Linked DNA regions of Homo sapiens: region 1 is linked to region 2. The links come from fine-mapping of genetic effects on gene expression. A gene starts in region 2. The other region holds a variant in brackets. All regions are shown on one strand. Distances are between the middles of the regions.

Region 1 (8,867 bases), 74 kb after region 2:
AGGCGAAACCTTTTCTCTACAAAAAATACAAAAATTAGCCAGGTGTGGTGGTGTGCACCTGTAGTCCCAGTGACCTGGTAGGCTGAGGTGGGAGGATGACCTGAGCCTGGGAGGTTGAGGCTGCAATGGGCCGTGATCGCGCCACTGCACTCCAGTCCGCCTTTCTTTTTGGGTCTCAGTGATCTATTGAAAACTCTGTTGTTCATATTGTCCTTTCCAAAAGATGGTGACTAAATCATTTAAGTTAGACAGCCAAGATTTAGCTCTGAGAACTAATTTTGGCTTATTGTACTCAACATATTTAAGACTGTCAGCAGTTTTTGTTCTCTCCAATGTTTAATAAGGTCAGGAGTTTAAAAAGAGAGCAATTTTCTTGATAAAGTTTTTCCTTCTTTTCCCTTTGGGAAACATCACTGTGCCTAACTGCTTTAATGCTGAAGTTGGCAGGGCTTGCAGGTTGGGAGCAAACAATAAAAAGTCCCTCGCTGAGACAGACTGTATGGAATGAATGCCCTGGGGAACTATACCCCTGCCCAACCCCCTCTGACCCCCCCAACTCAAAGGCCAGATGGGCTCTAGACAAACCCTGGGAGTGTGGGCAGTCTGGGGTAGTGGAGGCCAGCTGCTGTTCTAGGAAATTCCCTCTCTGAAAGACACATGGGAACCCTGTTTTGGTATCCAGAACAGTGCTGAAATGGTCAGAAATAGGACTAAAGTTGGTGGACTTTGCGTATGTACAGACAGAAACATCCTGCTTTCCAAAGAGCTGAACGCTGAGGGTCATTTATCTGTGGGATTCAGGGTACACTAAAGGTTTCTAGTTGAATTGGTTCTCATAACTTTTGTTGCATGTCTTACCTTTATGAAAAAGGCCTTTTCCAACAAGCTTATTTCATTGAAGTGTTATTGTCAGTCAGCTGAGCACGATGGAATGAATTTTGTTTGTTGTAAGGGCAAAGAAGCAGGCTAAAGAGGATGTGGTGAAAGATTCTACTTCCTGTCTATTCAAAGGATGTGAATAGACAGTTTACATAACAGAAAATTCAGTAGGCTCACATATGGTAAATCATACAGCTTTGTTTGCAAATAACAAAATACACATTAAAAAAGTTATAGCGTCTTTGAAAACCTATTAAACTCACAAAAATAAACAGAACCCCAAAATTCAATTATTTCTTGTGAGCAATGTGTCCAGGTTGTATGCTATGGTGAAAAGAATGCTGCATTTGGAATGCGAAGACTTAAATGTAACACAAACTGTGAGCAAGTTATTTACTTTTCTGAAGCTCAATTATTTTCTCATCTATAAAGGGTGGATAATAATATCTATCAACCTTATGAAGTTTATAACAGATTCATATAGGTGAATGGAAGAAATTTTCAAATGGCAAAGCACTGTATAAATATGTTTTTGTGTTTTTAATCAACAAATTAATAAGAGAAGTGACAAATTTTAGTTACTTATCCTTTTCAGAAGCATGTGGAATACAATTTATGAATGCACTAATTGTGTTTAGCAATTTCCCTTTTAGACACTGATGATGAACTAGCTAAATAAACCGTCTCAAAATGTGGGAATTACTTTTTAAAAATTACAATGTTGTGGGCTCTATCAGTACACTGACATTAAACTCAGATTTCACTGAGTTTATTTTGTTGGGTGATTTCATCAATGTTAACATAATTTAATCCACAAAATAATCATAAGTGGTAGATGTTATTCTTTCCATTTTAAAAATAGGAAACTAAAAGTCACCCAAGTTCTTAGTTGACTGATGCTTACATAAAATGATATTGAGTTGAAAAAAACTAAAAACAAAATGGTGTATGTGCATTTTACTTAACATTATATATGAATATGAGGACCTTAATGAATGGAAGACAATTTGAAGAAATACAAATATTTAGACCTAAGTACCTAAACACTTTTTATCTTAATTCTTTTTTAATTCTAAGAAAAAAGTGATTTTGTATCCTGGAACTTTGCTGAAATTGTTTGTGACAACTAGGAGTCTTTTGGAGGAATCTTTAGGGTTTTTTAGATATAGAATCATATTGCCAGAGAATAGGGATAAATTGACTTTCTCTTTTCCTATTTGGATGTCTTTCATCTCTTTCTCTTGCCAGATTGCTCTGGCTAGGACTTCCAGTACTATGTTGAATAAGAGTGGACATCTTTGTTTTGTTGTGGTTCCCATTACTGGTGAACTGAATTTTTAAAAATGTGCTATATATACACCATGGAGTACTATGCAGCAATAAAAAAGAATAAAATCATGTCCTTTGCAGCATCATGGTTGCAGCTGAAGGCCATTATTTTAAGTGAATTAATGCAGGAACAGAAAATCAAATACCGCACGTTCTAACTTGTAAGAGGGAGCTAAACAATCAGTACACATGAGCATAAAAATGAAAACAGACACTGGGGACTCGAAAAACAGTGGAGGGGGAAAGGGTTGGAAAACTACTTATTGGGTACTACGTTTACTATTTGGGTGATTGGTTAAATAAAAGCCTATACCCAGCATTACACAACGTATCTATGTAATAAACCTACAAATGTACCTCCTGAATCTAAAATTTAAAAAACATTCTGAGAAAAAAAATAATATCCTCCCAGGAAATTTTGTTGGTATGATTAAAACAAAACAAAGCACCATTACCCAAGGGAAAATCAGTTTAAAAATCATTTAAACTCTGAAAGATACTATTATAACTTAATAACAAACGAATCTTAGTACAAACAGAGACACTATGACCCAAACCAACGCTTGGGGGCAAGGGGAGTTCAGACTATAACCTCACTAAAAACTATAAGAAAAATGGCACTGATGAATAATAACTCACTTATCATCCCCCAACAAAGACAGGAACACAACCCCGGGGCATTTTCCTGTGTCAATTAACAGTTAATATGTTATCTGCTCAGTGACATTAAGATGTGATTCTCAAAACCTTTTACAAAGACATTGGCTTTGATGAGTGACAGACAACAAGCCCCGGCAGGCTGGTGAAAGGAAATTCAATTATATCGCTTCTAAATTGTGCATCCTCTGGGTTTAACTCAGAGATGCAAATACCAAAGAATAAAACTCGACCCTAGATTTCCTTTCGGAAATGCTGAGTGATTTCACAATTTTGTCCTTGCTAGAGAGGGGCATGCTTCTGGGCAATCAGGTGGTACAACCCGCAGGACAGTGAATGCCGTTGAATAAGGAGTGTGAGGGCTGGCATTTACTGTTTAAGAGGCATTTCAAAGAGTGGCAAATCACTTAGGGCCTCGATAATTCTACACATAATAGAACAAGGGTAGAGATGGCTTTTGTCTATGAAATAATTCAAGAAACAGCTGTTTTCCTTATTTATTCAAGTAGACTGGTTTCCAAGATTGGGGTTCATGCATCTCAGAGATTGGCTACAGACAATCATCTGGGGTCTAGAGAGAAAATACCAGAACTATTATATTATTTATTTTTGTCTGAAAATGTAAGAAAGAGATTAAGCTTCCTAGCACGTATGGAACGGCCTAGTGCTGACATACCCCAGCACTCTTTGTAGGTCTGTATTTTAGACTGTCTTGTATCTTGAACAGTGTGGGAGTTTGCCTGAGAGGGAAATGGAGTTCCACAAGGTGGAGGTAGGGAGGGGACCATTAGTTCCACCTTTTTATTGGCTTTCAGAGTTTCAAAGTAGGGCTTAGTAAGTGGCTTTACAGATTACACTATCTCGTTTTAACGAAATGTATGCTCACCACATAGACAAGTAGCTAGAAAATGGCTCTTGCAGAGAAACTGCAGATTTAAAAAACCTAATAATGTAAGAACAAATGTACAATTCCATCGTAGAGGTGGCTTTTTGCTTACTTTGCCATGTGACAAGAGAAAAGCAATGAGCGAGCCAGATCTATTAAGAATTAACATAACTTTTTTTTCATTGATCAAGAATATTATTGAGCATGTGGATTCACACAATTGTTAATGAGGGTCCTCACTCCAAGTTTCTATTTATATTGAGTATTCTGTGGCTTTGGTACTTACCTCTTTCAGCTATGATAGCTCTGTGTGTTTGCTGGGGCTGCTATAACAAGGTGCCACAGACTGGGTGGTTTAAACAAAAGAAATTTATTTCCTTACAGTTCTGGAGGCTGGAAGTCTGAGATCATGTTGTCAGCATGATTTTTTCTTCTGTGGCTTCTCTTCCTGGATTGTAGATGGCCACTGTCACCCTCTGTCTTCATGTGGTCTTTCCTCTGTGTGCATGCATGTCTGTGTCCAAATTTCCTCTTTATAAGGAAACCAGTCATATCGGATTAGGGCCCATTCTAAAGACCTTATTTTAACGTAATTAACTCCTTAAAACCTTATTTCCAAATATGTTTTCATTCTGAGTTACTGAGGATTAAAATGTTAACATGCAAATTTGTGGGCGGGGGATGGGGGCAGAAAATTTAGCCCATTACAATGGCCATTAACATTGCCTATTAAACTAAACTTATAAACAGACTTTTAAATCACTAATCACAATTTTAACGCAGGACTTTAAAAAGAATCATATTTTGAAAAGTTTTGTGCCAATAATGAATACAAATTATTAAAACGTATTCTATTCCATCGTGACCTCATCCTTTAGAAACTTTTGGTTTAGATGTATGTTCTATAATAGAATAATATATTG[C/T]CATTAATTCCTTAATTTAACAGACACCTATGAAGTGCTTGTCAAGTGCAGGTACTCTGTTTTAGGCACCTGAGATGCATCAGGGAAAAAATTTGCCCTCGTGGAGCTTACATTCTAGTAGGCAAGAGACTGATGATGAATCATAGCACAATAGTTAAGACTGAAGGACTTATCTCTAGCTGCTAGGAGTGTTGCCAAATGACAGCCCTCGTCTGTTAGCCCTCTTTGGGAATTGCCTTTGGATGAAGAGAGCTACCTCATGAAAGGTCATGTACTCTTGCCAGCACAGCCTGCATCCAAAGTCTGGTCACTCCAGAGGTAAAAAGGTCCACATGACTGGAACCATCTGGGTAGCTCTGAAGGGCCATCCTAGTTGGAGAGCTCCCTGTGGGGTTGGTTGAGAACTTTCTTCAGACTCAATCATAGCCCAACACTTTCCCTGAGGGTTACTCATATTATATTTATCATATTATATTATTATATTATGTTATATTATTATTCTATATTATATTACATTACATTACATTCTAATGTTTTACTGTCTTATTAACTGTTTGTCTCCCTTACTAGAAGCAACCTCCGTGAGAGCAGGTACTTAGTCTCCTTTGTTCACTGCTCTGCCCACAGCTCCCAGAACAATGCCTGGAAAGTATTAGTTCTCTAATAAATATTTGTTAAATCAGTGAACAAATCTGCAAAGTGAGAATAAAAGTAGGACTGACCTTACAAGACTAAATTGTGATAATCCATGTGCAGTCTTAATGCAGTGCTTGGCTTTGCAATAAGTGCTTTAAAAAAGTTGGTAATTATTATGCTTATTTCAAAGATGACTTTATCATTTCCTATTTTTAAAAAGCCAGTATTTCAACTCTATTTGTTCAGGTGTTAATTAATTAGACCTTTATTGCCAAGCACTACTTTAGGAGCTGGAGCTACAAAAAGTGTAAGAAACATCCGCTGCCCTTAAAGAGGATCCAGTTCACTTGCAGGGTCACAGGTAACATGTCATTAGTTATTTCATATTTTTCCACTTAGAAGCTAGCTTCTTTTGCATATTCTTTCCTTTTCCAAATACTCTAAGATGTGAATCTTATTACCTGTTTTCCAGTGACTTTTTTCTTCTTCAATTATTTGGGCAATACTTTCCAACTGAAATACATTCATGTCAATCACTGGGCAACAGCTCGTTCAAAATTAGACAAAATGATTTTCTTGTTTCAATGGATATCATCAAATCTTTTAATCTGATGGTTGATTATTGTTATTATTGATACTAAATCAGTTAGGACACCTGGAGAGGATTTTACTTGCTAACCTTTTGGGCGAAATCTCTTTTGACTAAAAGATTCCAAAGATTCCACCAGAACTTTGCCATCTACTCATTCTTGAAGACTTACTTTAGGCATTCCCTCATCCAGGAAGGGTTCCCAGATTAAATTAGCTACTTTCTACTCTGGCCTCACTATACCCACTGGAAGGTTAAGCCATCATTGCACTTGGCACATGTTATTTGAAATTCTTCTTTTGTTTTTATTATTATTATTATTATTATTATTATTATTATTATTTTTGTAGACATGGGGTTTTGCTATGTTGCCCAGGCTGGTCTCGAACTCCTGTCCTCAGTGATTCTCTCAACTTGGCCTCCCAAAGTATTGGGATTACAGGTGTGAGCCGCCACACTCCGTCAGTGGAGTTCTGCTTTTGAATCTGTCTTCTTTACTAGCCCAGAAGCTCCTCTAGGATCTGAAGTACCTGCTCTCATGGAGGTTGCTTCTAGTAAGTGAGACAGTTAATAAGACAGTATAACATTAGAATGTAATGTAATGTAATATAACATAGCATAACAATATATTATATAAATTTTCATTGTGTCTCCTACACCTATCACAATGCCTGGCAATTAATCAGAATTATAATAATAGGTAACTCAACTCTTGCTTTGCAGGCAGGCATTGTTGTTCCTTATAAATCCTTATCCTGACCTTCTGAAGTAGGTACTATGATCATCTCCATTTTACAGATGAAAGAAGCGAGGTCCAGAGATCTTAAATAACTTGGCAAGATGAACCAGCTAGTAGTTATCCAGATAGAATTTGGACACAGATAATATGGTCGTGGAGCCCACATTCTTAAACCTTATGCCCTATGCATGAATGCATTTTGAATTGAACTACACATATAATTGTTTTACATAAGGAAAGAACATGACTGGAAACTTTAACTGCAATTTAAGCTTAGCTTTTCTTAAGTTTAGAAGCTTCTGTAAGTAGGACTCAGTTCTCAGAAGTAGAGCTTTTATATTTTCTGGTTTAAAAGTAGAAGATTCTATGGCTTACTGATGTCCTTCTATGTTGCTATAATCTTCTGAAAAAAGGTAACCTGTGTTTAGTCTTGGTTTTGCCCCATATCCTGGGACAATATCCATATTCACAAATAATAATAATATGAACCAACATCTAGTGAACATTCACAATATAACCTGGCCAGAGACACACAGCTGGTCAGTGGTGAGACAGAAATTTGAATCGACACCATTCACTGCTTTGAGCCACTGAGCCATCCTGCTTCAGACAGGACCTTACTCTGTTTACTCTGCCTAAGACTTGTAGCTCAGCAACCAGAAATGAGACCATGCTCCCTCATGTTGTGGCCTTTTTTCTTTCCCTGTCTGGAACCCCAGTTCTTCTGAGACTGAAGTCTAGATCTTAGTCACTGCAGTTGGTGATCCAGTACATTTTCTTGCTGGTCACTTTTTACTAGGACTCCCAATAACTGCCAATTGTTAGACCTCTGCTTCTCTTAGTATTCCTGTTGCCTATGTATCCTTGATGCATGGATATAGCTTTAGAGATTGTATTAGGTCTGAGAAGGACCCCAAACATCGCCTGTTAACAACTACTTGGCTGATACTTTACCACATTCCTGCTAAGTGGTTATGTGGCCATTCTTGAAGAAACTTTTTCCATCTTTTTTTTTTTTTAATTAAAAAAATTTTTGGAGGGGTACATAGTAGGTGTACATATTTATGGGGTACATGAGAGGTTTTGATACAGGCATGCCATGTGAAATAAGCACATCATGGAGAATGAGGTATCTATCCCCACAAGCATTTATCCTTTGAGTTACAAATAATTTAATTATATGCTTTAAGTTATTTAAAAATGTACAATTGAGTTATTTGACTATAGTAAGCCTGTTGTGCTATCAAATAGTAGGTCTTATTCATTCTTTCTATTGTTTTGTACCCATTAACCATTCTCACCCCCCCGCTACCCCCAGTACTCCACTACCCATGGACATAAAGAGTAGAAGAATACTTATTCTGTCTTCTGCTTATTCTGCTAGAACGTTCTATGTTGAAGTGTACTCTTGCCCCATATAACTTCTACTCCTTGGTTTGGTTCTATTAATACTTATCATACAAATCCTGATTCATCTTCTTAGTAAGAGGCTTTATAACATTGAAAAACAATGCTATGTTCTTATGAGTGTTCTTGATATTCCCTTGTCATTTTTCTTATTAGATATTGTTTCAAGTCTCATCACTCTGAGCATGCACGAAAGGGGAGAGAATGTCCTTTGAAGTCAGACACATCCAGCTTTGAATCCTAGCTCCACCACTTACTGGATTTATGTGTTTCAGTTTCGTTTTTCTTTCTCATTTGTAAAATGTTGATAATTACACACAGTTTAAGGCAAGTTGTGAAGATTAATTAAAGAGGTGAAATATAACACTTGATGCAGTGCAGACACTCTAATAAATGGCATTTGCTGTTATTTTTATTATCATTATACTTTTTAAAAGAGGGGTTTAAAGAACCAAAACTGATACCATATTCAGATGTGATCTGATCATCCCTAAGTAGAGTGAGACTCTCAACCTATGATAAGGATGATACTAATACTTAAAAGAGTGGCTTTTCAAAAATGGACAAATGGAGTCTAATCAAACTAAAGAGCTTCAGCACCTTAAAAGAAACTATCAACAGAGTAAACAGACAACCTCCACAATGGGAGAAAATATTTGCAAACTACGCATCTGACAAAGGCCTAATATCCAGCATCTATAAGGAATTTAAATCTACAAGAGAAAAAGAAACAATCCCATTAAAAAGTGGGCAAAGGACATGAACAGACACTTTTCAAGAGAAGACATACATGTGGCCAACAAGCATATGAAAGAAAACCCA
Region 2 (8,867 bases):
ATTCCTTTTCTTGCTTTTTCTCTATAGCGCTTTCACTTTCTAATATATAATTATTTGTTTTGTTAATTGGACTGTCCTCATTAGAATGTAAACTTCAGTGAGGCAGGTTATTGTTGTCTGTTTATTCTCTACTGCTTTCCTGGAATCTAGAATAAATGCATCAATGAATGAATGAAGTGAGGCCCAGACTACTACTGAGTGACAGAGGTTTGAACCTAGGCTTATGTGCTGTGCTGACGCACTAGATAACCAATGACACTTGTGAAGATTAGGATCTAGGGCATATTCTAAGAGAGATAAAATATGCAACATTTAGTGAATGTTTGACTGATGAAGGGTTGCGTGCAAAGAAAACCACTGGTGTGTAAAAGGAGCAGGGAAAGCAGCCTCGCTTTTGATCTTTGACATGGAGGATGCAACAGAAAACGTGAGGCTGGAGAAAGCCTGGAGGTCAAAATTCAAAATGCTGACCTTGAAATTCTTCACATGTGGGCAGGGAATACCACGTGGAGGTGAATATAGTGTCCATAACACTCTATGTAATCCGTGCATGTGGGCATCCTTAAGAGTCTGTAAAGGGTTTGGCCTCACGTCTTGACACTCTGTTGCTACTGTGTGCCCTTGGGCAAATTCTTTAATCTTTGTAAATGGGATAATTTACATGTTTTTTCTGAAGACTGTCCGAAATTATGCAAGTAAACACAGAAACAAGACGGTACCCATCATGCAGTTAAGTGCCCAATATGCATTGTTGTATCAGTTTGCTGTGGCTGGAGAACAGCGTGTTCCAAAGGTGACCAGTAGGGAGAAATCAGAAATGTAGCTGGGTCCATTCTGATAACTGTGCTAAAGGATTTTTGATCCTGGTCTACGATAACACCCCCTTTACTTGACAGCTGAATTGGAACGGATTAAATCGGTTAGGGTAGTATCTCAGAGGGCTTTGCTGCAGATGAGCGAGTCCAGGCGGGCTGTCAAGCGAGCCTCAAGGGGCATCTGTGGGATGCCCAAACCGTGTCCCCAAGCCGAGGCCTTTTTACAGGTCCTCAATTCAGAATGAAAAATTAATTCCAACGGCTAATAGCACCCCACCACCACTTTAGGACGTTTCACCGTACCCATTTTGTCGTCACAGGGACCCTATGAAGCAGATAGTTTTATCTTCGTTATGCCGACGTGGAAGACTGCAACTTAGAACGGCTAAATGATTTAACTAAGGGCGCTTACCTAGGAAGAAGCGGGGGACATAATGCAAACGAGGGCCGTCCCACTCCAGAAGCCCTTTTCGCAGCATTTCTAGTACTGAGCAGTCAGAACGCCACTTTAATCAATGCGCCAGGAAACACTGGCATTCCCTTGGCGATAAAGTTCAGAAGCATGGGTAAAACTACAGTTTCGATGTATCCTCCCGAATCTATAGTCATACTCAAGTAGCTGCGTATTAAAACAGGCAAAGTAGAAACCCAACTTCCCTCCCTTTCTCTTCTGTTGGAGGTCCTGTGCTGAACCTCCAACAGGTTTGCTCTTCTCAGTTCCGCTGAAGGGCATCCTGCCTCTTCCCTCCCTGTCCCCAGGTCCCAATGACTGAAACGTCTCGGGGTGGGAACTTCTGTGACAGATCGTGGAGGACAGGGGGAGTCAACTCCAGCGCAGGCCTCCCCCGGCTGAAACTAGAAGATACCCAGTGAAATATACGAGTTTTGTTCCAAGGACTGCCCAAAAATGGTGCGGAGAGGAGCTCGGCAATCCCCACCTTTGTCGAACACGCTCCTCCAGGGGCGGCCTGCCTGAAGCAGAGCTCCAAAATTGGCAACCTAGGCCTCGCAGCCGCCTTTTTTTAGCCTACATTTCCCAAACCAGGGAAGAGGCGGGTGACTAAAAATGCAAATTGCAGCGGGGGTGTTAGCAGGCATGCCCGTGGGTGCGGGGCGTCGGGCGAAGGGAGACCCCGCGACCTTAGGCGCCCTCGCGGTGTTCACGGTAGGCGCAAAGCGCAGCAAGGGACACTCCCCAAAGCCGCACCCCGCCGGACGGCTGCCCCCGCTTCCGCCTCTCAGGCAGCGGTGGGACAAAGCGCGGCCTCTTTTCCGCCGGGGTTTAGGGAGGGAAGGCCGGATTAGGGCCCGCGCCTTCCGGCTGCATCCCTCTCGCGCCGCGCCGGCCGCACACAGGTGGTTTTCCGCTCGGGAGGGGCAGGCTTCGGCACTTTTATATAACAATAGAGCTCTGCGCGCCGGGAACGCGCCTCCCCGCCGCCGCGGCCCCCACCCGGCCACGCCTCCATCCGGCTTCCAATCCGTCCGCCCCGCGGCGCCTGGGCCGAGTGCTGCTCGCTGGCCTGGCCCGCACCTCCCCAAAGTTACCTGCTGGCTTTGCAGCGCGGTAGAGACGTTCCCCTCGACTCCTTGGGAGCGAGGAGCCAGGGGGGTCCCGGCAGGCACTCGTCCTTGCTCCCCCCACCCTCCCCAGATCTCTATGGACCCGGGAGTCCCTCGCTGAGCCCCGCACCCGTCCACTGCGTCGCGCACAGCCCCGTGCCCAAGCGGGGAGACGGGGACGGCGGGGCGGTGGCAGGGAGCGCAGCGCGCAGGCGCGGCTGGTGCTCCCCGGAGTGCCCGGCGCTGGACAAAGGGAGGAGGCGGCGGCAGGAGAGGGCTGGGGAGGCCCCCTCTGACATGCCTCCCTGCCAACTGTAACCAATCGTCGAGCCCCCCTGCCGAGCCCCCGCAGCCTGCAGGTCTTGCGGGAGGACTTCCTCACGCCTCGCCCATGGCGGGGACTGCTGGCCCGGCCCGGCGCGTCCCAGCACACCTCGCTCAGGCAGCCCCGCCAGACCGGCTCCCCCGTCAGAAGCCGAGCTCCTTGCCCAGAAATCATTAACCAGCGCGACCTCCCAGCAGGCGATGGTGGTGGTGGGGCGGGGGGAGAGATATAGATTCCCCCGAACAATGGCTTGTAACTCCCCACGCCGCCGGAGCGGAATACAGTAAAAGCACTGGACTGACCTAAGAGTTTGTTTCTGCACTCTACATTGTTTTAATGAAAATAAAATGTTATTTTAAGAAAAAAGGTTTTCTTCTGATTTTCTGCACAACCAGACGTTTGTTTGTTTGCTTTAAAATGTTTCAACAAAATCCTGGTTTGTTTCGAAATATGTTGGATTAGCATTTAACACCTCATCGGTCACTAAAGCCCAGTCAGTTCACCAGCCCCAACACAGCCTCGGCTAAAAGAACATCAGAGCAAACAGAGCTGGGCCTTTAAAAGTGGCAAACAAATGCCACACACCGCCTAAAGAAGGGGGGTTGGGGGAGGGGAGGGTTAAGGCGAACTTGGGTCCAAATGAGTTTGAAGGGAATACAAAGAACGAAAAGTCAGCACAAGTTTTCCTAAAGCTAGCTCGCGAACGCAAGCGTCGCGAACAAGGGCTTTTGTGCATGCTAATTGCGCCATTGGTGCGCAAAAGTTCCGACGCGAAGTGTGAACTCTCAACAGAAGGAAACATGAGACAACTGAAGTGCCCTGGTTTATGTGCCCTGCTCCTCCTCCGCTGCCGCCTCCCCTTCTTTCTCCTTCCTCCCGCCGAGCCCGCTGTTGCAGCTTGTTTGCACTGGGGCTTATCCGGAGCGGAAATTCCTTTCCGTTTTTGTGAATGACAAACTCATTAACAATTCATCAACACAACCTGTTCCAGCCGGCCCGTCCCCACGGCAACAGCCCCTTCCGCAGCACGCTCATTGGCTGGCCCGGAGAATGTATCCATTGAGACGCTCGCTGTTTGTATCCATTGAGGAGCTGCCTCGCGCAGGGGGTGTGCGAGGCTGAGTCCAAGAGATAGCAAATCGAGTCTTAAATAATCCGGGGAGAAAGACGCCCGGGTAGATTTGAGGTGCAGCCTTGGAGGGAGGGATTAGAAGCCGCTAGACTTTTTTTCCTCCCCTCTCAGTAGCACGGAGTCCGAATTAATTGGATTTCATTCACTGGGGAGGAACAAAAACTATCTGGGCAGCTTCATTGAGAGAGATTCATTGACACTAAGAGCCAGCGGCTGCAGCTGGGTGCAGAGAGAACCTCCGGCTTTACTTCTGTCTCGTCTGCCCCAACCGCTAGCCTCGGCTTGGGTAAGGCGAGGCGGAATTAAACCCCGCTCCGAGAGCGGCAGCTTCGCGCGCGGTGCGCTCGGCCTATGCCTGCCCCGAGGGGCGTCTGGTAGGCACCCCGCCCTCTCCCGCAGCTCGACCCCCATGATAGATACGCTCAGACCCGTGCCCTTCGCGTCGGAAATGGCGATCAGCAAGACGGTGGCGTGGCTCAACGAGCAGCTGGAGCTGGGCAACGAGCGGCTGCTGCTGATGGACTGCCGGCCGCAGGAGCTATACGAGTCGTCGCACATCGAGTCGGCCATCAACGTGGCCATCCCGGGCATCATGCTGCGGCGCCTGCAGAAGGGTAACCTGCCGGTGCGCGCGCTCTTCACGCGCGGCGAGGACCGGGACCGCTTCACCCGGCGCTGTGGCACCGACACAGTGGTGCTCTACGACGAGAGCAGCAGCGACTGGAACGAGAATACGGGCGGCGAGTCGGTGCTCGGGCTGCTGCTCAAGAAGCTCAAGGACGAGGGCTGCCGGGCGTTCTACCTGGAAGGTACGCGCCCAGGGAACTCCGCGCGCGGGGCAGGGCTAGGGGCGCAGGGCTGCGGGCGGGGCGCGTGGATTGAAAATACCTCTGCTCCGCTCAGCTGGAGCTTCGGAGCCGCGCTGCCCGCCTAGGGACCGGCAGCCGGCGAGGTAGGGGCCGCGAACCGCGCGTTCCGCACCAGAGAACCGGGCCGGCTCAGAATCCACTCGCTTCCGGCTGCGGGTACCGGCGGTTTCTTTCTAACGGGTTCTGCGCCTTCTTAGCCAGAACATCCTCCACCATCACCCTGTTTTCTATCGTTCGATTTTGAATTAAGATTTGCAGGACGGGAGAGATTGTTGGGGATGCAAATTGGCACATCTTAGCTCTCAAAATATTCCAAAAAGTTGCCATTTTGTCTATTTCCGGATTCAAGCGAATAAGGGTTCCCTGGCGAGGCGGGCCCGTTCGTTCCATTCCCGATGGTGCACATTTAAAGTGTGTTTCTCTTATAGATGGTTCTGTATGTAGGGGGTTCGTAGGATGCTTGTGGTGTTTCTTGCGCCGGGCTGCGGTTCTTACAAGCTGTGAAAACTACTACGGCTTCTCAGGTTAGATGATTGCTTTTCTCGTTCTGGCAGGTGGCTTCAGTAAGTTCCAAGCCGAGTTCTCCCTGCATTGCGAGACCAATCTAGACGGCTCGTGTAGCAGCAGCTCGCCGCCGTTGCCAGTGCTGGGGCTCGGGGGCCTGCGGATCAGCTCTGACTCTTCCTCGGACATCGAGTCTGACCTTGACCGAGACCCCAATAGTGCAACAGACTCGGATGGTAGTCCGCTGTCCAACAGCCAGCCTTCCTTCCCAGTGGAGATCTTGCCCTTCCTCTACTTGGGCTGTGCCAAAGACTCCACCAACTTGGACGTGTTGGAGGAATTCGGCATCAAGTACATCTTGAACGTCACCCCCAATTTGCCGAATCTCTTTGAGAACGCAGGAGAGTTTAAATACAAGCAAATCCCCATCTCGGATCACTGGAGCCAAAACCTGTCCCAGTTTTTCCCTGAGGCCATTTCTTTCATAGGTGAGACTAATTAATAGTCGTCGCTCTGACATTTAAATGCAAAATTCCTAGCCATTCATAGAGTTTAAGCTGTTAATCGTTCTTGCTGCTTGCTAATTTGTCTGACTGCAGGTCTCTAATGTTCCTAGAGCGTCCTTAATTCTGGTTTATCTTCTTGCTAAAGGAAGAAAACCTGCCTTTTGACATGGCTGCAGATCACAGGTGTATTTGAAACGCTGTTTCTTGAATCTTTGAATTCAGTCATTGACAGTCGTTCATAATCGGACAACAGATTTTTCCCCCCAGTCTTTGGACTCAGGGGAAGGGTCAGATAGAAGTACTCACTATAGACAGGAATTCCAGCATTGCTTTATAATTTAAAAACATCTAGGAGTTATTTTAGGACATCAAGTTAGTTGTTGGAAAGCAGTATGAATGCTGAATGTTATCCAGTTGAATGATGCGGTGATACTGGTAACAGTGAGACAGTGGGTAACCTGAGCCCAGCAGGAAGAACTGTGGGCTGGAAGCCTGGGAGAAGTGAATCTCCAGGCATTGTAATGCATTTCCTATTACAAAGGAACTCATTTTCAGGCCGTGTCGACATCCTGTTCCTCCTAATGGGCCGTCCCCTGTGACTTCCCTCTCTCTTTTAAAATGCCTGAATACCTCCATTGTTAGCTGCACAACATTTGGAGCATAATTTAATAGACCCTTGCAGTCTGGTTGTCTGTGTAAAAGGCATTCACGAACATATTGCAGGGTTTCTGGTATTCACATGCCGAGGCAAAGAATGCACCCATTAAGGAGTTTTTTGTTGGCAGAAACTTAATACAAAAGCTCTCTTTTCAGAAAATATCTGAAATATGTAATTGTGTCCAGTGTACATGTTTCATTTCAGTGATACATTTTCTGCTGCTTGTAGGGCTCAACTGCCACACACAACTATTATTATTATTATGTTTTCAAGTTCAGTTTTTAGACTGATCATTCACAAAGGGTGGTTTTCAGTCTGCTGAGATCTTGCTTTTCTTTTTGTGTTCACAGATGAAGCCCGGGGCAAGAACTGTGGTGTCTTGGTACATTGCTTGGCTGGCATTAGCCGCTCAGTCACTGTGACTGTGGCTTACCTTATGCAGAAGCTCAATCTGTCGATGAACGATGCCTATGACATTGTCAAAATGAAAAAATCCAACATATCCCCTAACTTCAACTTCATGGGTCAGCTGCTGGACTTCGAGAGGACGCTGGGACTCAGCAGCCCATGTGACAACAGGGTTCCAGCACAGCAGCTGTATTTTACCACCCCTTCCAACCAGAATGTATACCAGGTGGACTCTCTGCAATCTACGTGAAAGACCCCACACCCCTCCTTGCTGGAATGTGTCTGGCCCTTCAGCAGTTTCTCTTGGCAGCATCAGCTGGGCTGCTTTCTTTGTGTGTGGCCCCAGGTGTCAAAATGACACCAGCTGTCTGTACTAGACAAGGTTACCAAGTGCGGAATTGGTTAATACTAACAGAGAGATTTGCTCCATTCTCTTTGGAATAACAGGACATGCTGTATAGATACAGGCAGTAGGTTTGCTCTGTACCCATGTGTACAGCCTACCCATGCAGGGACTGGGATTCGAGGACTTCCAGGCGCATAGGGTAGAACCAAATGATAGGGTAGGAGCATGTGTTCTTTAGGGCCTTGTAAGGCTGTTTCCTTTTGCATCTGGAACTGACTATATAATTGTCTTCAATGAAGACTAATTCAATTTTGCATATAGAGGAGCCAAAGAGAGATTTCAGCTCTGTATTTGTGGTATCAGTTTGGAAAAAAAAATCTGATACTCCATTTGATTATTGTAAATATTTGATCTTGAATCACTTGACAGTGTTTGTTTGAATTGTGTTTGTTTTTTCCTTTGATGGGCTTAAAAGAAATTATCCAAAGGGAGAAAGAGCAGTATGCCACTTCTTAAAACAGAACAAAACAAAAAAAGAAAATTGTGCTCTTTTCTAATCCAAAGGGTATATTTGCAGCATGCTTGACTTTACCAATTCTGATGACATCTTTACGGACACTATTATCACTAAGACCTTGTTATGGCGAAGTCTTTAGTCTTTTTCATGTATTTTCCTCATGATTTTTTCTCTTTATGTAGTTTGACTATGCCTTACCTTTGTAAATATTTTTGCTTGTGTTGTCGCAAAGGGGATAATCTGGGAAAGACACCAAATCATGGGCTCACTTTAAAAAAAGAAAGAATAAAAAAACCTTCAGCTGTGCTAAACAGTATATTACCTCTGTATAAAATTCTTCAGGGAGTGTCACCTCAAATGCAATACTTTGGGTTGGTTTCTTTCCTTTAAAAAAATTTGTATAAAACTGGAAGTGTGTGTGTGTGAGCATGGGTACCCATTTGATAAGAGAAATGCATTTGATTGTGAAGAAGGGAGAGTTAAATTCTCCATTATGTTCGTGGTGTAAAGTTTAGAGCTGGAATTTATTATAAGAATGTAAAACCTTAAATTATTAATAAATAACTATTTTGGCTATTGAATGTGTGTTTTTAAAAACTCAGTTATACCTATGTGTGAAGTGACACATTTTAGAACTTTTTCATTCAGGGATTGATTTTGACTTGTAGGCATAGTAGGGCAAGGTTCTTTTAAGCTTTTCCTAGAACGTTTTTCAGCAGCAGTTTATGAAATTCATCGTTTGCCACGAATAAAGATGACATCCTAGAATGGACCGACTGTACCGTGTATATGAACAATACCTCTTATGAGTATAGTTCCGGCTTAAGATTTTAAAGCCCCTGAAGAAAAATGAACCTATAGAGCATAGCTTGCTGAGGAATACAATTTGGATATTAACCACAGAGAGGTGTAGCAGAATACCAAGATGACAGCCACATGTTAACCTCCTCCCTATCCTTCACTGTCAGGATCTTCTGCTTTATAATGCTGAGATAATGCCAAAGAGGAAGTAGGGATAATTCTTTTTCCAGTCTGTTGTCATGGGCAATTCTACCTGCAGATATCCTAGTGTGAGAATGCTGAATCCAGAATGATGTCTCCACTTTTTCCCCTAGCATGCGCATGGCAAGGCATATCTAAGCTTCCTCACCGTGTCAGGATATGGCTTTAGAATTTTACATTGGCACTTAGGAGGCAACTTTGTCATCCCTGTTGTAATGTGCT

What was found. PIP is the estimated chance that this variant, and not a neighbour inherited with it, causes the effect.
Region 1: its variant is fine-mapped to the expression of DUSP6 in whole blood (TOPMed, PIP 0.91).

What each region holds. Positions count from the first base shown.
Region 1 is chr12:89,273,131-89,281,997 of GRCh38, reverse strand. No RefSeq gene overlaps it. Among named protein-coding and RNA genes, the nearest start is that of DUSP6, 75 kb to the left of the region's middle. The variant C/T (reference allele first, on the strand shown) is at 4,675.
Region 2 is chr12:89,347,417-89,356,283 of GRCh38, reverse strand. It overlaps DUSP6 (dual specificity phosphatase 6), which reads left to right and starts at 3,783. Exons shown (of 3, transcript NM_001946.4): 1 at 3,783-4,644; 2 at 5,259-5,696; 3 at 6,723-8,867. The coding sequence starts at 4,245. The coding sequence ends at 7,030. It overlaps POC1B-DUSP6 (POC1B-DUSP6 readthrough), which reads left to right. Exons shown (of 11, transcript NR_189589.1): 10 at 5,259-5,696; 11 at 6,723-8,219. RefSeq lists enhancers at 1,558-1,607, 4,657-5,291, 5,927-6,561 and a silencer at 2,528-2,837.